Linked DNA regions of Homo sapiens: regions 2 and 3 are each linked to region 1. The links come from fine-mapping of genetic effects on plasma protein levels. A gene starts in region 1. Each other region holds a variant in brackets. All regions are shown on one strand. Distances are between the middles of the regions.

Evidence for each region. PIP is the posterior inclusion probability: the model's chance that the variant is causal. Protein levels are from antibody-based Olink assays in UK Biobank. Linkage for the fine-mapping came from a reference panel and not from the study's own genotypes, which makes the PIPs less certain.
Region 2: its variant is fine-mapped to the plasma level of the ENTPD5 protein (UK Biobank, PIP above 0.99).
Region 3: its variant is fine-mapped to the plasma level of the ENTPD5 protein (UK Biobank, PIP above 0.99).

The regions. Positions count from the first base shown.
Region 1 is chr14:74,014,923-74,023,101 of GRCh38, forward strand. It overlaps ENTPD5 (ectonucleoside triphosphate diphosphohydrolase 5 (inactive)), which reads right to left and starts at 4,366. Exons shown (of 16, transcript NM_001249.5): 1 at 4,328-4,366; 2 at 902-1,008. BBOF1 (basal body orientation factor 1) reads left to right here and starts at 4,427. Exons shown (of 12, transcript NM_025057.3): 1 at 4,427-4,612; 2 at 7,994-8,179. The coding sequence starts at 4,557. RefSeq lists silencers at 3,724-4,018, 3,934-4,003, 4,044-4,183, 4,194-4,263, 4,294-4,543 and enhancers at 6,824-7,118, 6,884-7,178.
Region 2 is chr14:74,214,239-74,222,417 of GRCh38, forward strand. LOC105370564 (a long non-coding RNA gene) reads right to left here and starts at 3,526. Exons shown (of 3, transcript XR_944025.3): 1 at 3,342-3,526; 2 at 408-519. The variant C/T (reference allele first, on the strand shown) is at 3,761.
Region 3 is chr14:74,203,660-74,211,838 of GRCh38, forward strand. LOC105370564 (a long non-coding RNA gene) reads right to left here. Exons shown (of 3, transcript XR_944025.3): 3 at 5,202-5,292. Among named protein-coding and RNA genes, the nearest start is that of VSX2, 32 kb to the right of the region's middle. The variant G/GA (reference allele first, on the strand shown) is at 3,453.

The sequences.
Region 1 (8,179 bases):
AATACAAAAATTAGCCGGGCATGGTGGCAGGCATCTGTAATCCCAGCTACTCGGGAGGCTGAGGCAGGAGAATTGCTTGAACCTGGGAGGCAGAGTTGAAGTGAGACAAGATTGTGCCACTGCACTCCAGCCTGGGCGACAGAGCAAGACTACCTCTCAAAAAAAAAAAAAAAGAAAGTAACTCCCATAAGAAACAGTTTGGATAATAATATATTTATTCAGGATTCTAAAGGCTATGTAGAAACAAAATCTAAAGTTGTTCACTTAGACTGATCCACCTATAAAGTACCATCTGCTATAAGGTGATCTCAAGAATGATTTATGAAGGGAAACATGGCCTCTAAGGTAAACCCGAATAAAGTTATAGATGAATTTATAAAGTAAACCCAGTTTTGGACCTACTAGAAGAAAAAAGCAGAAGTACTACCCACCCCCCGCCCCCCCTTTTTTTTTTGAGAAACAGTCACACCATTGCTCAGGCTGGAATACAGTGGCACGGCTCACTGCAGCCATGATCTCCCTGGGCTCAGGTGATCCTCTGAACTCAGCCTCCTGAGTAGCTGGAACTACAGGTACATGGCCACCACACCCAGCTAATTTTTGTATTTTTTGTAAAGACAGGGTTTTGCCATGTTGTCCAGACTGGTCTTGAACTCCTGGGCTTAAGCAATCCGTCTGCCTTGGCCTCCCAAAGTGTTAGGATTACAGGCATGAACCACCATGACCAGCCAGAAATTCTATCTATTTTGATACATAATAGTTCTAAATTTTATATATGGCTTGTTGGACAAAATTAACATCACTTGGCAAAAAACAGAGAATTAAATTCAGGAAAAAAAGAAAACCACCATTCAGGAACATTTGAAATACATTTATAAATTTAAGCTAGTGGAGATATTACCTTACATCTGGATACAAGTCCTACCTAACAGCACCATAATGATCTTGTCTGTATGAGGATTCAGCCAAGACACTCCACATTTCTTTGTTGACCAGGAACAAGGAAAACTGGACAGAAAAAGAATTACAAAACCAAGTCAACAAAACATGAAGTGGCTTATTCCAAGTTTAAAAGCATTAGTGTTCTAAACAATGAAACAAGGAAAATTTATTTAGTAATAATTCCTGGAACTTCATAGTAAAGGCACCTACCAGTAACTGTGGAAGGAAATGCTACCAGATAAACTACTAAATAGCAACTTCCTACTCTACTATCTGTACTATCAGTTGTTGCTCACCAGCAGATGACAGTAACAACATCCAGTTCTTTGGTAGAAAATGAGGGGATTCAGAAGAATGTAGACTCTATATCCACCTCTACCAGAGTATGAAATCTTGGCATTTCCCTGAGCCATATTCATGTCACAACAGCTTTATCTACAAAATCAAACTTAGTCAATAAAAAATATATATAATACAATAAAATAAACTAGGCCAAGTGTGGCGACTCATGCCTGTAATCCCAGCACTTTGGGAGGCCAAGGCAGGAGGATCACCTGAGCTCAGGAGTTCAAGACCAGCCTAGGCAACATGGCAAAACCCTGTCTCTACAAAAAATACAAAATTAGCCAGGCATGGTGGTGCATGCCTACAGTCCCAGCTATGCCAGAGGCTGAGGTGGGAGGATCACTTAAGTCCAGGAGGTCGAAGCTGTAATGAGCCATGATCCTGCCACTGTACTCCAGCATGGTTAAGAGTAAGACCCTATCTCAAAAAAACCATCAAAAAACCCAAAAACCAATAAAAGAAACTATAAAGTACTATAACTAAGGTACTACGCATACATTAATAATCTTGTTATAGTCAAATTTTTATGTTCATACATTAATCTGTAAGCCTATGTTCAAATGAGGAGTCTTGGACTGACTTTCATATTATAAAGTTACCAATTTCTAGAATAAATTCCAAATATACAGCCTGTGACAGAAGATGCCCTACTCTCTTTTCTGCAGCTTATCAACAGTGTGCTTTTTCAGAACCTTACACATACAAAATTAATGGTAACTTTATAGATTTTACATCAGAGATAAACTCTTCAATATATGGCGATTCCGCCTATGGACTCACGGGAGTGTGAAAGTATACCAGAAATACACTCAGAAAAAGCTATGATCGGCCAGGCGTGGTGGCTCACGCCTGTAATCCCAGTACTTTGGTAGGCCGAGGCGGGCGGATCACCTGAGGTTGGAAGTTCGAGACTAGCCTGACCAAAATGGAGAAACCCCGTGTCTACTAAAATTACAAAAGTAGCCGGGCATGGTGGCGCATGCCTGGATTCCCAGCTACTCGGGAGGCTGAGGCAGGAGAATTGCTTGAACCTGGGAGGTGGAGGCTGCGGTGGGCCGAGATCGTGCTATTGCACTCCAGCCTGGGAAACAAGAGCGAAACTCCATCTCAAAAAAAAAGAAAAGAAAAAGCCATGATCATGCTGGCAGATGGTATGTATAATAAGGTTTACGCCAGCCTGACCAACATGGAGAAACCCTGTCTCTACTAAAAATACAAAATTAGCCAGGGATGGTGGTGTGTGCCTGTAATCCCAGCTACTCGGGAGGCTGAGGCAGGAGAATCGCTTGAACTGGGAGGTGGAGGTTGCGGTGAGCCGAGATCGTGCCATTGCACTCCAGCCTGGGCAACAAGAGCAAAACTCTGTCTCAAAAAAAAAAAAAAAAAATTTTACAGCCGGGGGCGGTGGCTCATGCCTGTAAATCTCAACACTTTGGGAGACCAAGGCGGGTGGATCACCTGAGGCCAGGAGTTCAAGACCAGCCTGGCTAGCATGGTGAAACTCTGTCTCTACCAAAAATACAAAAATTAGCCTGGCATGGTGGCACGCACCTATAGTCTGTTACTGGGGAGGCTGAGGCAGGAGAATTGCTTGAACCCGGGAGGCAGAGGTTGTGGTGAGCCGAGATTGCGCCATTGCACTCCAGCCTAGGCAACAAGAGCAAAACTCTTGTCTCAAAAAAAAGGTTTACAGCCGGGGCGGTGGCCCACGCCTGTAATCTCAACACTTTGGGAGGCCGAGGCAGGTGGATCACCTGAGGCCAGGAGTTCGAGACCAGCCTGGCCAGCATGGTGAAACTCCATCTCTACCAAAAATACAAAAATTAGCCGGGTGTGGTGGCATGCACCTGTAGTCCCACTTACTGGGGAGGCTGAGGCAGGAGAATCGCTTGAACCAAGGAGGTGGAGGTTGCAGGGAGCCGAGATGCCCCACTGCACTCCAGCCTGGGTGACAGAAGACTCTCTCTCAGAAAAAAAAAAAAAAAAGTTTACAAGGCTTATCATTACCAAATCGGCATGTTCCCTCAGAAGAAACAGAAATTCAGAAACAGAAACTATGCAAGTGGGAAACAAGGCGGAGGGGAGTAATTAGAGGTCAAAGACATCGGGAAGGAGTGTACGGATTAAGTCCTCCCTAGAGAAATGGTGACGAAGGATCTACAACCACATTTAAAATAAACTTTTTAATTTGAAATGGAGTATAACAGAGCAGAGCTTCAACCACAAGTCTCCTAACTATTGGCTTGGCACTCAGAATACCGTACCTTCCTTAATGACTCACTGACTGACTCTCATTGAAAAATGAGAATACTTGTGAGTACACTCCTTTTCAGAGGTGTATTCGGGATTTCAGGAGTCGGGGAGGCAAGTTGAAGAGCTTCCAACTTTATGCAACTTTCAGGAAAGAAGGCTGCGGACCGGTATTAGCAAATGGAAATCCGGGGGGCGGTCGTGGGCAGGAAGTATCGGCCACACAGGACCTAGTGAGGCCGAGGACCCTGCTCCCGACCTCGGTGGCAGCACTCCCCTCCCCGCCCGGCTCCCTGGCGTGCCGCTGCTCTTCGGAGGCTGGCAGCCTCGCCCTCAACCACCGCCCTCGGGAAAGTCCTCGACTGCCTATCAAAAAACATTTGGCCTGGGACGTCCGCTGGCTGCACTATCCCTTACAGAATCAGCAAGGGTGAAAAGCCAGGAAAGAGATGCAACCCAAAGGAGTAAGGCAGTGCCGGGAGCGGCAGAAGCGGAGCGGGGGCGAGGGCAAGGTAGCCGCGGCCACGCTGGCTGCGGCATGGAGACACGGGAGGAACGGGACCCGCGGGCGGCACGGGAAAGGGCTGCGGCTCAGACCACTGCGGCGGGACGGGCGGATCAGCGGGGATCTAAGTCTCCTGAGGCAAGGGCGCCCCGACCGCAGCGACTCCTGACACACCCAGGCCGCAGGACGAAGCGCTACCGCCTGGGGCTGCCAGCTCCCGCCTCCCGCCCGCAGAGCCCGGGCCCCACGTAGAGGATCCGGCGCCGCCGACACTCGCACACTCACCGCGCGCGCGCCACCCTTGCGCGGCAGCCCGCCGCCCTCGGCGCGACCTCCGCCCCACCCCGCGCGCCGCGGCGCCTGGGCTACGTCACGGGCGCGTGCGCTCTCCGCGCGCCGTCAGCGGCGCGGGTGGGGCATTGCCAGCTCGGCGTCCCGGTTCCCTTGGAGACAGAGCTGGCCAGGGCGGCCGCGGCTGGGCAACTACGACAGCGGAGCCCCTGGGGAAGCCAAGATGCCGTCGAAGGGAAAGGACAAAAAGAAAGGCAAGAGCAAAGGCAAAGACACGAAGTAAGGAGAAGCCACCCGAGAGTCCCCTCTCCCTGGGCCTGCCTGGGATTTCGGGTCTGGGGCTGGCAACCTGGCGCCCCCCGCGCCGGCCCACTCGGACCCTCTCCCCGGCTCTCCCGGCTTGTGAGGATTACAGCTCCCATGTCCATAGTCTGGCAGATCTCTACTATGTGTTCAGATTATCTTAAACGTGTAGAGGATGTATAAAGTAGTTCCTTGGGCCTTTTCAGAGATCTCTTTTGGTTCAAAGGGGACACCTAAAGTATTTTACCAAGTTGGATAATTATTGAGGTTTTCCCAAACTGATCAGAGCCACTGAGGTGGGTAATGTTCTAGCACTAACCCCTTACAGGCCTGGAGTTGCTGCTAGATTGCTACTAGCCCTATTGGGGGACCCCGGTGGTTTCTGGACACGTTGGAGTCATACGTGGTGTCCAGCAACAACACCATATATGGGAACACAGAGTTGGCACCAAACTTGAGATGTTTGTAAAGTAACTTAAGAGAGTAATTCATGCTCAATACAGAAAGTTTGGGAAACATGGGAAGTACCAAAAGAAAAAACAAAAATCACCTGTAGTCTCATTATCCAAAAATAAACACTACTATATTTTGGAGTATTCTTTTTTAATAAAACGATAGCCCAATGTACATACTTATATGTGGCTTTTTTCTTCCCATTTGTTAATGTAAGTATTCTTTTATGGTATTTTTTTTTTGTTTTTACATAACTGCACAGTTAGTCTAGCCCTTAAAGTGCCAAGGGCTTATCACATTCCTAGAACTCACTAACATATGTTTTCAGATTTTGACCATGCTTCTACAGTACACATTTGAACAATGAGGAACACTAAGGGTAAGAGACCTTATTCCTTGGATTTTCCATGACCCATTGTTTGAGAAACCTGGCTTTGTTTCTACAGTGAGTATCAGTGGTCCTATTAGAGTGTCTAATTTCTTGCATCAAGTACTTTTTTTTTTTTCTTGACACCAAGTTTTGCTCTTGTTGCCCAAGCCGGAGTGCAATGGCACGATCTCAGCTCACTGCAACCTCTGCCTTCTGGGTTCAACCAATTCTCCTGCCTCAGCCTCCCGAGTAGCTGTGATTACAGGCACCCGTCACCACGCCCAGCTAATTTTTTTATTTTTAGTGGAGACAGGGTTTCACCATGTTGGCCAGGCTGGTCTCGAACTCCTGACTTCAGGTGATCCACCCGCCTCGGCCTCCCAAAGTGCTGGGATGACAGCCGTGAGCCACCATGCCCTGTCGCATCAAGTACTTCGAGCCACTCAGACCTGATACCTGGATGGTCGTAGTGAGACAGTGTATCACTAGTGCCTAAATCATGCCAGAAAGGGACATCAACAGCTATAACAGGCTGAGGGGTTGGGAATGGAGCTGGCCTTAATTTGAAGAGAACAAAAGGTGAAAGTGGGACTTTGGTTCTCTCCACTGCAAACCCATTACCTCTGTGGAAGAGGACTGAGAACCAGAGGTAGGAAAGTGGATGTGGAGGGTGGCAGTATAGAAAGGTCCACATGTACATATGTGTGAAAATATTTAGAATTCAAATACAGGTGAAATATTCTTAAATATGTACATATTTATATATCATGGTACCTACCATATATAAGGGGGAGTGTTTTGTTAATGCTTATACAATAAATATTTAGAAAAATCTCTTCCTTTACCACTTTAATCTTTGAATCCATCCTTTTTCCTCTCCACCTCTATATAAATGATTATGGTTTCTCAGGCATCCTTAAAGCCCGGTGGGTGGGGCATCGTGGCTCATGCCCAGCACTTTGGGAGGCTGAGCAGGGGAAGATCACTTGAGCCCAGGAGTTCAAGACCAGCCTGAACAACATAGGAAGACCCTGTCTCTACAAAAATTTTTATTAAAAATTAGTTGGGCATGCTAACTCATGCCTGTAGTCACAGTTACTTAGGAGGCTGAGGTGGAGGATCGTTTGGGCCTGGGAGGTTGAGGCTGCAGTGAGCTGTGATGGTGCTACTGCACTACAGCCTGGATGACAGAGCAAGATCTTGTTTCAAAAAAAAAAAAAAAGTCCGGTGAACTGTGGCACCAGCTGATAAACTATTTAACGTATTTGCCCTAGTGACTTGACTTTTTGTCCAAGACCTAGCCCAAAACAAAACAAAACAAAAACACCATCCTGGCTAACACGGTGAAACCCCGTCTCTACTGAAAATACAAAAAATTAGCCGGGCCTGGTGGCGGGCTCCTGTAGTCCCAGCTACTCGGGAGGCTGAGGCAGGAGAATGGCATGAACCTGGGAGGCGGAGCTTGCAGTGAGCCGAGATCACGCCACTGCTCTTCAGCCTGGGTGAAAGAGTGAGACTCCGTCCCTCCCCCAGAAAAAAAAAAAACACACTCAAAAGTGGAGGGTAAAGTGGGTGGGAGATCACAGTTATACTACCAATGGGTATCATCATGCAGAAACTGAACAGAGATAATGGGTTTGCAGTGGAGAGAACCAAAGTCCAGCACTGAGTGAGTAGGAATAGAAAAGATAGTTTAACTACAGGAGAATCAGGCTAGGGCACTGGTTCACACCTGTAATCTCAGCACGTTGAGAGGCCAAGGTGGGAGGATACTTGAGCCCAGAAGTTGGAGACCAGCATAGGCAACATAGTGGGACCCCATCTCTATTAAAAAAAAAATAAATATGGGAGAATCAAATAAGTAAATGAAAAGGTATAAAAACTGCCCAAGCGCAGTGGCTCACACCTGTAATCTCAGCACTTTCGGAGGCTGAGGTAGGAGGATCACTTGAGCCCAGGAGTTCAAGACCAGCCTGGGCAACATGGCAAAAACTCATTTCTACAAAAAGTACAAAAATTAGCTGGGCATAGTTGCATGAACCTGTAGTCCCAGCCACTTGGGAGGCTGAGGTGGGTGGATGGCTTGAGCCCAAGAGGCAGAGGTTCTGGGGAGCCGAGATCGTGCTACTGCACTCCAGCCCGGTGACACAGCCAGGCCCAGTTTCAAAAAGAAAAAAAAAAGATATGAAAGCTTTCTGAAATGAGTTTGGCTTATCCTGTCTTTTCCCTTTGTTTTACCAGTCTTTTCGAGTTATGCTCCAGGACTCCCCTCCTCCAGGAAGAGGCACTTACTTAATTATCTTATGTGAATACAAGTGAATATGTATTTCTTTTTTTTTCTTTTTTCAAATGTGAATATGTATTTCTTATTAACTTATTCTTCCAACAATATTTGATCATGTGTGCCAGGCAATGCCAAGCAAAACAAATAAAAAAAGAGAAAAATTTAATAGTAATATAATAGAGTTATATACTATCTGCATATTAGAGTTGTATAAATAGTCATATACTGTCAATATCCTCTTCCCATGCAGGAAGTTAATAAAAACAGATGAATCTGTGGTGGACAGAGCCAAGGCCAATGCCTCCCTTTGGGAGGCCAGGTTGGAAGTCACAGAACTCTCTAGGATTAAGTATCGTGATACTTCACGGATACTGGCAAAAAGTAATGAGGACTTAAAGAAAAAGCAATGTAAAATGGAGAAAGACATAATGTCAGT
Region 2 (8,179 bases), 200 kb after region 1:
TCAAGTTAATGAGCCTGTGGGCCTCTAATTAGCTGTCAATTACCTCAAATTAATCACCTCCTCGCCTAATTAAGCATTATCGGCAGGTGGGCACAAAGCAGACCATTGTGTGAGAGCCATGAGAAAAGCTGGGCTGGCAAACTTGGTTAGGATCAGCTCTGTGCACTGCGCCCGCCTCCCCACAGCGCTCAGCCATGGGCCCAGCTGAGAGGCCCTGGGGCCCTCTGCCCACCACTGTCCCCAGACACTGGGGTACTTGGGGACCTCCTGGGAAGCTGAGTGGACTGGAAGGGAGGTACAGAGCCTAGAGGCAGGTGAGACAGCTTTGGGGCAGTGGGGCGGTAGGAACTGGAGGCCACGGAGAAGGGCGGAGCTTCAAGGCGTGGTGACCAGCTCCAGGCACTTACTGAGAGCCAAGGCGAGAGCTGGGCAGAGGGGACACCAGGTTGTGGCTGGGCGTCCAGGCCTGTGCGGGCAGGCAGAGCTGGCTTCCAATGCTGGCCTGGCCACTTGTGAGTTCTGTGAACCCAGAAAGAGACAATGTTTTTGAGCCACAGTTTCCATCCCTGGGAAGAAAATTTTTTTTGTTCTAAACACTGTCCTGGGTCTTTGTGAGGGTTCAGTAGGATCATGCTTGTGGAGCACCTGCCACATGGTAAATGTTCAATGTCTTTACTAGTGGCAACAGTGGACATGGGTGGTTTAAGACCCAGGGCCACCTCACCTAACAACTGCTGAAGCTGTATTGTATCCCCAAATTCTGAGCCCCCGGGCCTCAAGCCTGTAGTGCACCCTTGAAAAATGTGAGTGGGCTGGCCAGGCGTGGTGGCTCATGGCTGTAATCCCAGCACTTTGGGAGGCCGAGGCGAGTGGATCACCTGAGATCAGGAGTTCGAGACCAGCCTGGCCAACATGGAGAAACCCTGTTTCTACTAAAAATACAAAAATTAGCCAGGTGGCGGGTGCCTGTAATCCCAGCTACGCAGGACGCTGAGGCAGAAGAATCGCTTGAACCTGGGAAACAGAGGTTGCAGTGAGCTGAGATCGTGCCACTGCACTCCAGCCTGGACAACAGAGTGAGACTGTCTCAAAAAAAAAAAAAAAAAAAACAGGAAAGAGAAAAGAAAAATGTGAATGGGCTGCTAGGACGCACGGTTGCTGGATGCCGGGCTATCTGGCTACCACTTCCTCTCCACTCCCTCCCCATCGCCCAGCACCTTCCAGGGATCAGAGCCCCACTCACAAAGTGCCCTTGGTGCCATATGGAGCTCACCAGATGAGAAGACCACAGTTCTCTAACTAGAGACCAAGAAGAAGAGGGCCCCTTGGGTCTTGGGACTGCAGGGCCTAAAGCAAGGGGGGTCTCCAGGCAGCCCCTGGGCACTGAGTTCATGCCCCCAGCCATGGTCCTGGGAGGCTGAACAGAGTTCCCGCTCTCCTCGGCACAGGGCAGGGTGAGGCTGGGGGCCACCTGGACAGCTCTGCGCTCCCACTGACTGTCAAAGGCCACCACTCCCATGCCAGATCTGTCCCCTCACCCCACCCTAGCCGCCCCTTGTAATCTGTACCCACTACTTCAGCCCTGGCACAGGAAGACCTTTCCCTATCTCCTGTGGTAACAGAGACCCTTAGCCTCGCCGCCATGAAAGCTTGGAAACATCTTTCCTCTCCTTGGTCTCGGTCATTTAGCAAACATTGTACCTTACTAATTAAGCTCACTGTAAAGGGGTGATGGTCAGGTGAACACAAATCATTAATGGATGCTCTGGAGAGACAAAGAACAAAAAAAAGCTAGCACTTATTAAGTGCCTACTGTGTGCTGACAGGAGTGGTAAGAGATTCCGTGAATATGTTACACCTGTATATACTGTTATGTTTAATGAATTATTTATCAAAATAGATAATACATATACACACAATTTTTTAAACTAAAATAAGGGTGTAGAGGAAACCACAGGCTTCCCTCACTCCCCTGCCCTCCAGCCATCTGATTCTGTTTCCCACAACCAACCAGTAACCAGTTTTTCATACACTTTTCCAGAAATTAAAAAATATTTATATGTATATACATATTTCATTTTCACAAGTGAAATAAAACGTACTGTCCATCTTCCTTTTTTAAAAATAATACCGTCAGCCGGGCGCAGTGGCTCATGCCTGTAATCCCAGCACTTTGGGAGGCCAAGGCGGGTGGATCACCTGAGGTCAGGAGTTCGAGACCAGCCTGACCAACATGGAGAAACCCCATCTCTACTAAAAATACAAAATTAGCCTGGCGTGGTGGCACATGCCTGTAATCCCAGCTACTCAGGAAGCTAAGGCAGGAGAATAGCTTGAACCCGGGAGGTGGAGGTTGCAGTGAGCCGAGATTGCGCCATTGCACTCCAGCCTGGGCAACAAAAGCGAAACTCCGTCTAAAAAAAAATAAATAAATACTGTCTTGGAGATTGAATGTGGAATAGCAGCACAGTATTCCACTGCATGAATGTGAACTTTTTTCTTCTCTTTAAAATTACGTAAAAGTTGGCCGGGTGCAGTGGCTCACACCTAGGAGCGTCTGTCCATTAGCTTGTATGTCTGTCCGAATGGAAGTGCCTCCCTGGGCCGGGTGCGGTGGCTTACGCCGGTAATCACAGCACTTTGGGAGGCCAAGGCAGGAGGATCACTTGAGCCCAGGAGGTCGAGGCTGCAGTGAGCTGTGGAGGCACCACTGTACTCCAGCCTGGGTGACAAAGCAAGACCCTGTCTCTAAAAAACGGGGTGATGGGGCTCTTCCGAGTGAAAAGGTGGAACTACTGACCTAGTCCCACCCTGTCAGTTCACCATGAGGAAACAGGCTAGAAAAGGGGTTGACTTGTCCTTAGTCTGGAGCTGCCTTGTCAGGTTCTTCCAGGTACCACTTGATCACGTGGACGGGATGGCATTAGCCGTGCACACTGGGCAAATGCTCCGCCACCCTCCCTGCTCTGCTGGGCTTGGGAGGAGTAAGCGGTGGATGAGATGTCCCTGATGTGTTGGGCCTCCAAGGAGGCCCTTTATTTATTTGTTTGTTTGTTTGTTTGTTTATAGTTGAGTCTCACTCTGTCACTCAGGCTGGAGTGCAGTGGTGCTACCTCAGCTCATTGCAACCTCTGCCTCCCCGATTCAAGCGATTCTCCTGCCTCAGCCTCTCAAGTAGCTGGGATTACAGGCATGCGCCACCACGCCTGGCTAATTTTTTGTTTTTTAGTAGAGACGAGGTTTCACCATGTTGGCCAGGCTGGTCTCCAACTCCTGACCTCAAGTGATCTGCCCGCCTTGGCCTCCCAAAGTGCTGGGATTATAGGCGTGAGCCACCGCACCTGGCCCAAGGAGGCACTTCCATTCGGACAGACATACAAGTGAACGGACGGACGCTCCTAGGATGGGTGCTATGCATTGCTTAAGAAGGGGAACCTTTGAGGACCCTTGAAATCCCTCCCCTCTGATGCCTTGGAGGAAGGCGGACTGGCCCAGATTCCCGGACCGGCAACCGCCACCTGCCTCTCTGGTCTCCTCCCACCCCGAGGGGATCGCGCTCGCGCCGCGCCACTCGCGCGGCCACCGCTAGAGGGAGCCGGGAGCGTCTCCGAAGTCTCCCGCTTGCGGCTTCGCTCAGGCGCTGCCTTTCACCCGCCTCGCAGGGGCTGCGAGGCTCCGACAAGACTGGTCCCTTCTTGTCATTAGGCCCTAGGCCCGCAGCCCTCCGCGGCCCCGACCTCTAGGAGGTGCCCAGCACCAA[C/T]AGGCCGACCCTATGCTCCCTACCCAGCCCTCCGCTATGAAAACCCTAACGCTGCTCTGCTACTGCCCCCATTTTACCAATTAGGACACAGAGAGGCTGACAGATGTACCTAGGGTCACACAGCGAATGCGTGGCAGAGCCGGAAACCCAGGGGGCCTGGCTCCGAACCCCCATGCCTCAGAGGATCTCAAGCACCTTCTTGTATCTTTCTGTTCAAGGGGAAACCGAGGCACAGAGCAAGTCTAGAGCATACTGTGTGGGTGGCCCAGTCTGCCAAGGACCGACAGGAGGCTAAAGCTAGGCGGCCAGCCCCTAGGCAGATGACCACAGCAGAAAAGCCTGTGGGGAGAAGAGGTGCCAGCCTGCCCCAAGGTGGGGGTGGAGGGGGCTGTTGGTGCCTCCCAGGATGGGTGACAGCTGCAGCCTTGGGTGGGAGGCCAGAGGCCCCACACGATAATAACTTTCACTCACTGCCCAAGAGCTAATCCCATTACTCTGCATGGACCCTCTGGGACCACCTCCCTAACCCCCCTTAATCCCCTGTCTCCCTCTGGGAATGGTCCAAGGGCCTCCCTGCCAGCCCATGCCAGCCCCAGGCACAGGCAGACCTTGCCCCTCAAGCTCTGTCAGACCACCTGTGCCCATGAATGCCCATCGTGCCTGATTCTTGGGGCCCCAAAGGGACAGCCAAGAAGGGTGGAGGTCCAACCTCTCTCACCCACCTTCCCTGCCATCCCTGACCCTGCCTGCCAGTCCCCAAGGCACCTTCCCAAAATAGCCTCCGGCTGGGATCCAGGTTTTCTGAGCCTCGTGTTCCTTTCTAAGCAGGCTTCTGGGGCTTGTTATCGTTTTTGTTGAAGGAATTGGCAGGAGAGAGCTTGGGTCCACAGTATATTCATCTGTAAAATGGACGCAATCGCCCCCAATTTCTATAGTCGTTCCGAGGATACAATGAGACACTATGAGACACGGAGGACACAATGAGACACAAGCCTCCGGAGTGTTATTATCAGTGGTACAGAGCTGTCTTCAGATATGCAAAGGAAGTGGATTTCTTTTGTGTGTTACCAGAAGGAAGCTCCATGGCCAGAAGGCAGATGTTAGAGAGGAAGATTCTGAAAGATACACACTGTCCTATAAGGGTGATAAGAGCCACCATGTACTTGTCTTGGTCTCTTCCTTAGGTGCCAGGCACTTAAGCTTCACAGCACTCTATGAGGTAGATACTGTCATTACCTGCGTTTTGCAGACGTGGGAACTAAGGTTAGGAAACGGCACACAGTGGTGGAGTTGGAATCAAAAACAGCTCTGACTCCAGAATTTTCTGGGGCATTCTGCCTCTCAGGATCTGCTTCTAAAAGGGGGAGCTGATGTCTGAGAGCCACTCCGCCCCCAAAGTAGTGAGCTTCCCATTTGCCAAAAGTGTTCAAGGTGATGCTGAGGGGCCACACCAGGAACCACCGGTCAGGAGCCCTGAGGTCCCATGGCAGCCCCCAATCCTCCCAGCATCCCCAGGCGCGGGTTTCCAGGAGGAGCCAGGCCACTGCCCCCTCCCCAGCCTGGACACAGAGGGGGCTCCGTTTGGCGCCCTGGGCCTCCCTCTCCCCCACCTTCTGCTGCTCCTCATTTACATAAATTATCTCTCTCCAATTATCCATCCAGCTGTCCCAACGGTGATCTGTGAATGAATTAAAAATGGAATATAATTTAATAATGGCTGATTAGAAGGAGATTAGTTGTTATATAAAAATGAAAAGCCAAGAGCCAGCTAGTTGCCCTTAATCTGAGCCAATACCATCGTTATTCCGGAAAGGCCCCCTGGCCACCATCAGGCAAGGCAGACACGGGGACAAAGACTGGGGGAGTGCCAGGTGGGGCTAGACCACCCCAGAGAGAAGATAGGGCACTGGGAGGCTGGAATTTGCAGCATCTCTGAGCTGTGGGGCGTGGGCATCTCCTGTGGCTTCCTTCAAAACAGGTTTGGGTGGCTTCTGGGGTCCCTTTTTGCTCTAAATTCTAGTCATCCTTGAATCAAACCACTGGGCTTTCCCAAGGCAGCCAATGACTTACACCAGACCCTGCTAGGCATAGGATCTGGGGTTCAGGAGTTTCGTTCCTGCTCAGGCCCCGCCTCTAAGAACACATAGCAGTAGGGAACACAGACTTCCCCTGAGGGGGTCTACCTGTCTAGGACAGGTGGTCAGAGAGGGTCTCAAGCTTGGTTGGTCCAGACGGTCCACGGAGGATGGACTGGCTGAGACAAAGAAGGGTGAGTGTGCCCAGTGGGACCTCTGGGCCATCTGAACCTCAGGTTAATGACTAGATCTAGTGAAGGGGACTAGTGCCTCTCCTCCAGGAAGTCTTCCCTGATCTCCTGGGCTTTGGGGTGTCCCCAGTGTTTCTACGATGCCCTGTGTTTTCTCCATCAGTGCACTGAGCACTGCCGATGGGGTGTTCAGGCCCCCGTTTGTGAGCTCCATGGCTTCTTCATGTCTGTATCACCAGTGTTGGGCACACAGTGGTTGCTCTACCACATCATTGAACAAATAAAGACACCACCTCCAAAAAGCCTCTGTGATTGCCCTAGTGTAGGTTATGCGCTCCTTTCTTTGCTCCCCAAACACACTGTGATTATGCCTTTAAAAATAAGGCAAGTCATTGCTGTGGAGAATATAGAGAAGGACAAAATTTTAGGTAAAGGTGGATAGATGGAGACAGAACAAAGTGGTTAAGAGGAGCAGTTTGGAGTCAGACTGCCTGCGTATGCATCCCAGGTCCACCTCTTATTGCTGTATGACCTGGGTGGGGCATGTTACTAATTTCTCTGTGCCTCAGTTTCCTCATCTATACAATGGGTGTATATAATAATAGTACCTACTCCATAGGATTTTGTGAGAATTAAATGGAAGCACTTGTGGCTCTTATAATGCTTGTCACACCGAGAGCCTCTCATCTCTGTTGATGGTGCTGGCTGGACAGTGGGCCTGCGCAAAGCCATCCCAACATCCCTGGCTGCTACTTTTACACTGCAGGGCCCACAGGGACACAACACTGTGGCGGGACCAGAATGTTTCACCAACCTCGGGCCTTCCTGAAGAGGCTCACAGCTCATGACATGCCCATGAGAGGGGTCTGAGCCCCGGGGCTCAGGTCTGGGCAGCGAGGCCTGTGTGACTGACATAAGAGGATGTCTGCTAGGCCTGAGCTTGCAGAAAAGGAATGAAAGGGCCGGGTGGCCAGAGGAGTTGGGCATGCAGACCAGGAAGGGAAGGCTGAAGAGCTCTCTGCAGCCGCTGACTCAGGCCTCAGGGGCCATCATGGAGCAGACAGCCAAGGAAATATTGTCCACAGTACCAGAGGCTGGGAATGAACAGGGTGGGCACCAGAGGAGGCTGATTCTCTCAAAATGAGAGGCAGTACAGATTGTGCACAGCAAGTGTTTGTTGATTGGCTAACTGAGCTGCACCGGATTTTTCTAAACTTTCTTAGTCAAGAAAATCTTGATTTCTTATGTTTGTAGAAGGGCCTGGGAATCCGCACATTTGACAAGAGCCCCCGGTGAGTCTCAAGAACAGGAGGTTTTGACCCCAAACTCCATCTGTCCCTCAGTCACTGCTGCAGTGCCCTCTGGCAGTGGGGGCTGACTGGTGACCCCCACCTTGCCCACTACCCTCTGACACTCACTCCCATCTCCACAGCCTCAGCTTCAGTCACTCCCAGGACAATCTCCCTGGTGAAGCCTGAGCACATCGGTCCATATTGCAGCCGGGGGAGGCCTCCCAGACCAGCCCAGGCTGTGGGATAATTTGATATTCAAATCCTGGCAAAGACCTGCTTCAAATTGCTGCAAATTAAGCTGATTTTGCCCCTCTGAATGAGGGATTTGCTCCTGTGGATCAACCCTCTTCCCAGGACTTGATGAGGTCAGGATTAGAGACGGGGAGAAAAAGCCTGAGGCCGGAGGCCGGAGAGCTGGAGAGCTGAGGGGCGGGGGGAAGCCGAGACCCTGGAGTTAGTGAAGGTTCCCAGGGTCTCAAAAGGCAGCTCTACCCAGTGATAGCAGAGCCTCTGAGGCCCAAATGGGTCAGCCCCACTCCTCCATCCCCCCAGGAGAGCACAGCTCTGTACTGTTCCCAAAGCAGTTTGTGGACCTCATCCAATCTTTCCAAGCACCTGTGACCCAGGGCGGAACCGATCACCCCCATTTTACTGATGAAAGGGGAGATGAGGCTTTATTGGCAAAGACAATCTGGACTCAACCACTGCCACCGACTTGCTACGTGACCTTGAGCAAGTGACCTCTCTCTGAGCCTCCTTGTAAGGATGACTGGCGATGCATACACAGTGCCAGGCACATAGCAAGCCCTCCATAGCATGGGCCAAGTTCCTAGCCAAAGCCCTGAAGCTAGAAAATAGCTG
Region 3 (8,179 bases), 190 kb after region 1:
TGTGGGCCCCTTCCTCCTAATGAGAGCTGGAAGAAGGGCCCTCACAAAACACTGCCTCAGAATAATATTCTGCTTTGTCCCCACCAGTAACCAGGGCTGACAGGATCACTCTGTCCATTTCTCTTCTAATTAGCACAATTCCAGCATGGCCTGAGCCAGCAAATAGAGAAAAGCGATCAAAAGCGATCGGACAACCGTACCGAATCACAAACACAAAGAGGGCCATTCCCTGTAATTAGGTGAGACAATTCCTCAGTCTTTTCTCGGCTGGAGTTTGCCGCTAAGACTCTTGCTGTTTGGGTCCCAGCAACACAAGTTACATGTCTCCCTGGGACACTAATAAGCCCCAAATTGTCTTCCGCTTCACACAACTCTACCCAGAGGACAGACATGGGGTGGTGGGGCAGGTGGCGGGGAGGGGGTGGGGCAGTGCAGTGAGGGGACGGGTCTCCCAACAAGCAGCTGCTGCAATGTTTCCCCAACTTCAAGAAGCAGACACTGGGGCTGTGGGCAGAGAGGTAAGAGTCAGTTGGCTTGAGAGAACTGCTCTTGGCACAGCCTGGCCCCTGTCACTTGAGCTGGAGTCTGAAGCACTGAGAATTTCTGACCCTCAGGGGAAGCCCCCTCTCAGCTATTTGCCCTACTCTGTTCATTCGCTGCCTCCTGTCTATGGCCCCCTCACTCCTCCCACCTCTGCAGACTGGTAGCATCACTCCAGGAACTACATTGAGCCCTTCACAAACTGTAAGCCCTACACAACTATAGTTACCATTGCAAAGAAAGCTAACACACAGCACGTGAGTGAATTCTGCCCTAGAAGACTGCATGACCTGGAAGGGGCACCCACTGCCCCCCTCACTCTGGCCTTCATTTCTAGCACCCATCACCTTTATGTCCCTGATTGTGTCCCCAACCCCTGCCTACTATCTCCTCTCTCCTGAAAGATCCCTGTTTTTTTAAAACAGAAAAGTGGCCCATCTGCCAGGGCAAGAAGCTGTAACTGGCCGCGCTCCATGTGGCTCAGAGGTTGGTCACTTAATGAACAAAAACAGCTCCCCCAGGATTGCAGCCCATTACGGGGATTACTTGGGGCGATACAGCCGTAAACTTGGTCATAGCCAGGGACAAAGGAATGCAGGGGAGAGTGGCAGTTGGAATCTCAATTAAACCCAAGTTCGGAGCAGAATTGGGCTCACATATTTTCATCTCTCTCTTGCCCTCTGCTTTCTGTCTCGATCTCTATACCTGATGTTTCTGAAAGTGACCTCCAATACCAAAGGAGATTCAGTTATGTAGAATCTGAGGAGCCAAAAAACTCAAGTAATCAGAGTTGCATTGTTTTTCTACCTTCAGTTTTCTGAGGCACAGAGAGGATAATGATAAGATTTGACTTTTAAAAATAACTTTTGGGACATGCCAAAGAATTGATCCAAATTTGTTCAATTTCCTACAGTTTCTTTGGTTATAAACAGAACTACCTGGCACATAATAGGTGCTAAAATAAGCATTTGTTGAAAGAATGAACTGTGCCTTGACATTCGGTGTTCATAGCCTCATTGCTGGTCTAAGATATAGTAAGTGCTTGGATTTTGAGAGAGAGGCAGGGGTGATCTTGTGTAAGTTACTTCTCTCTAAGCCTTGGTTTCCTTAGGACTTTTTCCACTTTAAAGAGTCATATCAGCATCATGGATAAGGGCACAGGCTCTGAAGTCAGGCTGCCTGGGTGCAAATAGCACCTAACTACTAGGGTAGCTGTAGAGATTAAACGAGTATTGCAAAGTGTTGAGAATGGTGCATGGCATATCTTACCCATTACGTATATAATTGCTTGATGGATAGATCTATAAAACAGATTCCATGTAGTATTTAATTTTTTATTATACTCACATTTGTTAAAAATTGACAATCCCTAGGCCGGACATGGTGGCTCACACCTGTAATCCCAGCACTTTGGGAGGCTGAGGCGGGTGGATCACTTGAAGTCAGGAGTTCAAGACCAGCCTGGCCAACATGGCAAAACCCCGTCTCTACTATAAAAAAAAAATGAAAAAATACAAAAAAATTTAGCTGTGCAGGGTGGCAGGTGCCTGTACTCCCAGCTACTCAGGAGGCTGAGGGAAGGGAATTGCTTGAACCTGGGAGGCAGAAGTTGCAGTGATCTGAGATTGCACCACTGCACTCCACACTGGGTGACAGAGTGAGACTGTCTCACACAAAAACAAACGACAAACAAAAAAAACATTGGCAATCCCTATAGGGAAAATATAGTAACTTCTGGTTACCTTGACTAGTCAGTTAAGCAGAATACCATTTCTGTAACCCTTCAGAAGAGCTGACAGTTTACTATTTCTCCTACCCCCATCCTTCCACCCACTGAGGCCCTGTGCCAGCATGGACACTCAGTAGAAACCATTGTTGACTCTACAGACAGTGGCATTAAGCAAGGGAGGGAAAGGTATACTTTGTGACATTGGCAAGTTTCTGAACTGATACTGAACTTGGCATACATAAGCCTCAAATCACTGTACTTTGCTAATCTTTGTAGTCCTAGTATTTTCTGAGCATCCATGCTTTTCCAATCACTGCACAGGAACACACTTCCCTGTTTGATTCAGTCATAACCTCCTACCCCTAACCCACCAGTCCTCCACATTCCTCCAGATAGTTTTCTTTTTCCTTTCCCTTCCCTTCCCTTCCCTCCTTCCCCCACTCCTCCCCCTCCCCCCTCCCTGCCTCCCTCCCTCCCTCCCTTCCTTCCTTCCTTTTTTTGGTGAGACAGGGTCTCCCTCTGTCACCAAGGCTAGAGTGCAGTGGCACGATCTCAGCTCGCTGCAACCTCTGCCTTCTGGGCTCAAGCAGTCCTCCTGCCTCAGCCTCCAAAGTAGTTGGGACCACAAGCACGTGCCACCACATCTGGCTAATTTTTGTATTTTTTGCAGAGATGGGGTTTCGCCATGTTGCCCAGGCTGGTCTCGAACTCCTGGGCTCAAGTGATCCGCCCACCTCCGCCTCCCAAAGTATTGGGATGAGCCACTGTGCCTGGGCCAGATAGTTTTCTATGGTGTGAGATTTGTCAGGTTCTCGCAAACCTGTCAGGTCCCTTTCCAGGACTAAGCAGGGTCCACTCAGGCTTCTGCTCCCGCAGCAGCCTCCTCTGGGCTTTGCCTTCTCTGGGAGCCCATGGAGAGACCCTCGCCTGACTGCAGCCTGAGGCCTCAGGGTCAAGCGAGGCTGAAGGTCACATCCCAGGGCCTTTCTGGACGCAGCCAAGCCCCAGGAGCCAAGCTGGCCTGAGCCAGTGACTTCACACAAAGGAGCAGCTGAGAAGAGTCAAGTTGGGAAAGTCAGTGACTTGAGGCTGAGTAGAAATGAGAAGTGCTGGCTGTGGCAGGACCCATGAAGGATATGTGAGGATTGGAACCAGAAATGATCTCTGAGGAATGGTGGTCGGG[G/GA]GGCTCATGGGGAAGCAAGGTCCTGCGAGCTGCTTCACCTTGGCCTCCTACTTCCCGCCATCCACCTCTGCTGCTGCTGCCTCTGCCTTCAAGTGGCCCAAAGGCTGTTCAGATGTGCAGCTGTTGAGTAAATCATGGTACATTCCCGTAGCGAACTGCCATGCAGCCATTTGGTGTGTTTGCAAAGAGGTTATGATATCATGGAAGAAATGGTTTTGTCATAAGGATAAGTGAAATGGCCAGATATAACAATTACAGTGGGGTGGTGAATGGAAGGCAATAGGCGAAGGTGGTAATAGTGCTTGCTGCCTGGTTGGAGGAATATGGGGTATTGTTGTTTTCTTCTACATTTTCCAAACTCTCTACGGAAACAGGTATTGATTTTATAATACAGGGAGAAAAAAGCCTCTGGGGCCGGATATACAGATTTTAAAAGCCCTGCTTCTCAGCTCAGCCTGTTATCCTGCACACATGTGCATACATACATAGTTCATCGATAACCTTTGTATATGGTAATGAAATTTGTTCTTTAGTATGCAAATGTATATCAATCTGTACACCAATAAGTGTTTACTGAGCACCTAATAAGCATCCAGCTATACCCTAGGATCTCTACCTCATTGCATGTAATGTGGAAAAAAAAAACTTGTTCCCTATTCATGACAGTCCCATCTCTCCCCACACTCCTCAGAGCCTTTGCCCAGGAGCAGAAAAAAATCATTCAGTCAGTAGGTGTTCAGTGTTGCCAAATAGCTATCTTTTTCCTCAGTCTTTCCTTACCTACCCTGAGAAAATATGTCTCACCTAACTTTGCTGTAGAGTCGTAGCGTTAAGTTTCCCCCAGCTCTTGGACATGCAGCATCTTACTTCAGATGTGTTTGCGAGAGTTTCCTTCGCTACTTTCTCCTTGCTTCCCTTCCCCTTCCCAATTGGAGAGAAGGAAGAAAAGATGAGTTGGGGGTCAGGAGTAGAAATGGGTCAGAGAAGAGTCTGTAATTATACTCATGTTTTCATCACAAACAACCAGTTGGAGGCGCTGCACAATCAGGAAAGAGAAGGAAGTGCATTTCATCTGAGTTGGAGTCTGGAAGACACAAGGGATATGTAGGAGGTGGTTCTCACTTTTATTGGGAGACAAGTGTGTATATAAAGTCAGTTTCCCTGCAGGATGAGAAGCATAGTCATGGAATTGCTAAAGAAGATATAAAACCCTCAGGACCAAATGACATGAGAAAATGGAGAAGAATTGACCTTGTCCCCAAGAAGTGACTTGACCACATCAGCCCCAGGTTCCCAGAATATACAAGCCCACACATCTGACTAGGCCTGGGCTAGAAAATGGGCGGAAATTGGGAGCACTCCCCATTTTCCTTGATAGAAATAGATGGAGCAATGAGTAAAATTCTATGCCTGCCACATCTGCTGCGTCCTCCACTAATGTATGCACTTGTCCATCCTGTTTTCCAAAGAGGGACTGCTTTCTGTCCAGCTCAGAAGAGCAAAACGAAGAAGGAACAATGTCAGCCATGTGTAGCCCTGAATCCTGCCCTACCATTGCGGTCGCTCTAGGGCTTTCAGCCAGAACTGGGGTGGCCAGATCTGATCAGTCTTCCAAAGGAGCGAAGAGCACTCCAGAACAGACAGCTGAAGCAGTTGTTACAGCAGCAGGATTGCAGGGCAGGCGACGCTTCACAACATCACCAAAGACTGATGCAAATTGGTTTGGTTCTGACCCTGTCACACCAGGAAGGATAATGACTCCAGCAGCGCCAGGCATGGGAGGGAGCACGTGGTGGGGGCTGTGAGGATTGGTGTCTCACTTCACATCTTCATTAATGATCTGAAAGACAGGGGTAAACAGCATGCTAATGAAACCTGCAGATGATTGGTGTTACAAACCCCAGAGAGGACAGAGAAATAGCACAACGAGACCCAGAGAGCTTAGAAATATGGGCAGGAGACTGTCAAATGAGACTCGTCCTAGGAAAATGAAAGTCGACACGTCAGGGAGGAATGATGAAGGTGCCTCTGGGTGGGGGCCTGCAAACCTGAAAAGCAGAGATGGGTGGCAGGGTCAGGAGGTTGAGGGATATGATAAGGTTTGGGGTGTGTTGGAGGGAGACAGAGGAGCTGACCTTGAGGACCCAGGGGACAAATACCCTTGTGCATTTCTGGTCAGGACTGACCATGGGGCCAACAGTTCATGCAGCTGGGGAACCAAGCAGGTTGTACTGGCCCATTGGCCTGTGTCAGCTCCAGGACCCCTCTGCAACCCAGGACCTCTGATTTCACAGTCACAAGCTATGCCTATTTGCACCCAAGCCATTAAGGCTAAAAGCGCCATTTTGACCCGACCTGCTATTTTCCTAAAATGAAACAAGCCAAAATACATCTTTAACATTTTGCACTAAATTATTGGGGAATAGGAAATTCAAGAGCAGAGAAAGCAAAAAATGTCCGTATTTTCAAGGGTTTCCCATTCAATAAAGATTTATCAGAGCGTAACTCATTTATATTAAATCTACAAATCTTAAGTGAACAGCTCAATGATTTTTTTCCTTGACCAAATCACTTCACTTCACCAAGTCTTGGTTTCCTCGTCTGAAATGAGCATAACAGCAGAACATATCTCACAGCTGTGTTGTAAAGATTAAATTAGACTCGGTAAAGCCCCTTGGGCACAGTAAGTACTCACATATGGGGTGATTATTATTACTGTTTATTATCCTCTAATTTTATTCCTTAAGCTTTACTCTTAGCTCCCTAAGTAAATGATTAATTTCTTGAAGTCAAGGACTGCCTTAAACTTCTTTTCAGCTCATGGGTGCTGAATAAATCCTTGTTTGATGGATTAATGTGTTAGAAAATTCTTTTCATATAAATAATTTTATTCTTACCTAACTCAGATCTACTTTAAATGAAATCACTTTCTTCAAAATAAAACAAAAACAAGTAAAATCCTTATATCACAAGAGTGTTTTGAAGACAAAATATTCTGCCTTGAGTCTATGTTAACACCATGTGCTGTCTGGTGAAATTTTAGGCCAGAGGAAATCCCAGCCTGATGATTAAGAGCTCACTTTTGGGGCCGGGCACGGTGGCTCATGCCTGTAATCCCAGCACTTTGGGAGGCTGAGGTGGGTGGATCACAAGGTCAGGAGATCGAGACCATCCTGGCTAACACAGTGAAACCCCGTCTCTACTAAAAATACAAAAAATTAGCCGGGCGTGGTGGCAGGCACCTGTAGTCCCAGCTACTCGGGAGGCTGAGGCAGGAGAATGACGTGAACCCGGGAGACGGAGCTTGTAATGAGCTGAGATCGCACCACTGCACTCCAGCCTGGGTGACAGAGCGAGACTCCATCTCAAAAACAAAAACAAAAAACAAAAAAAAAGCTCCATTTTTGAGTCCAGTCGGGTTTGAATTGGGGTGACTAGCCGTCTGATTTGCTTGGAACTCAGGGGTTTCCTGGGAGGAATAACAGTCTTGACCATGTGACCGTTGATCACTCTAGTTTTAATGTGGTTTCTGCTACTTAATAGCTTTGGGGTGTGGCCTTGGATAGGATTGTTACCCTTATTGAACTTAGTTTCCTTTTCCGTTAAAGGGGGAAAATAACTACTTCACCAGGTTGTCGAAAGGATCAAGTGTCCCAGATGCGTTGGTTCACACCAGTAATCCCGGCATGTTGGGAGGCTGAGGCAGGAGGATTACTTGAGTCCAGGAGCTAGAGACTAGCTTGGGCAACATAGTGAGACCCCATCTCTACAAAAAAAATGTTTTTAATTAAATAAAATTAGCCAGCGCAGTGGTACATCCCTGTAGTCCCTGCTGCTCAGGAGGCAGTGCCGGAAGGATGGCTTGAGCCCAGGAGTTCAAGGCTGCAGTGAGCTATGGTGGCAGCATTGCACTCCAGCCTGGGCCACAGAGTGAGACGCTGTCAAAAAAAAAGACAGGGGGTGGCAAGCATGATGCTCACACCTGTAATCCCATTACCTTGGGAAGTTGAGGCAGGAGGATCACTTGGGGCCAGGAGTTCAAGACCAGCCTGGGCAATATAGTGAAACCTCATCTCTCCAAAATTAAATTAGTCAGGCATGGTGGTGCACACCTGTAGTCCCAGCTACTTGGGAGGCAGAGGCAGGAGAACCACTTGAACCCAGGAGTTTGAGGCTGCAGAAAGTCATGATTGTGCTACTGCACTCCAGCCTGGGCAACAGAGTGAGACTGTCTCAAAAAAAAAAAAAAAAAAAAGAATTCAAAGAATATACCTTTGCCTATTCCACTTATACCCAACAAAAATGAGTTGACACCAAAAGACACGTGTGAAAACAATAGCAACTTTATTCATTCAAGTAAAAAACTGGGGAACAAAGGCCATCAGCAGGAGAATGGATAGATTGTATATTCTATGTGGAATGCCAACTGGCAATAAAGAATGAACAAACTACCATGCCGCTTCACACAGTAATATGGATGAATCTCCCAAACACGAATGAAGGGCACATACCGTATGACTCCATCTGTATGAAATTCTAGAACAGGCAGAACTAATCTATGTGATAGAAGTCTAAATAGTAGTAACCTTGGAGGTATTAACTGAAAAGGGGCCCGGGGAGCCTTCTGGGGTTTTGGAAATATTCTCTGTCTTGATCTGAGTGCTGGTTAACACAGGAGGGTATGTGTGTAAACATTCATCGAGCTGTGCAGTTAGTGGCTGCACACT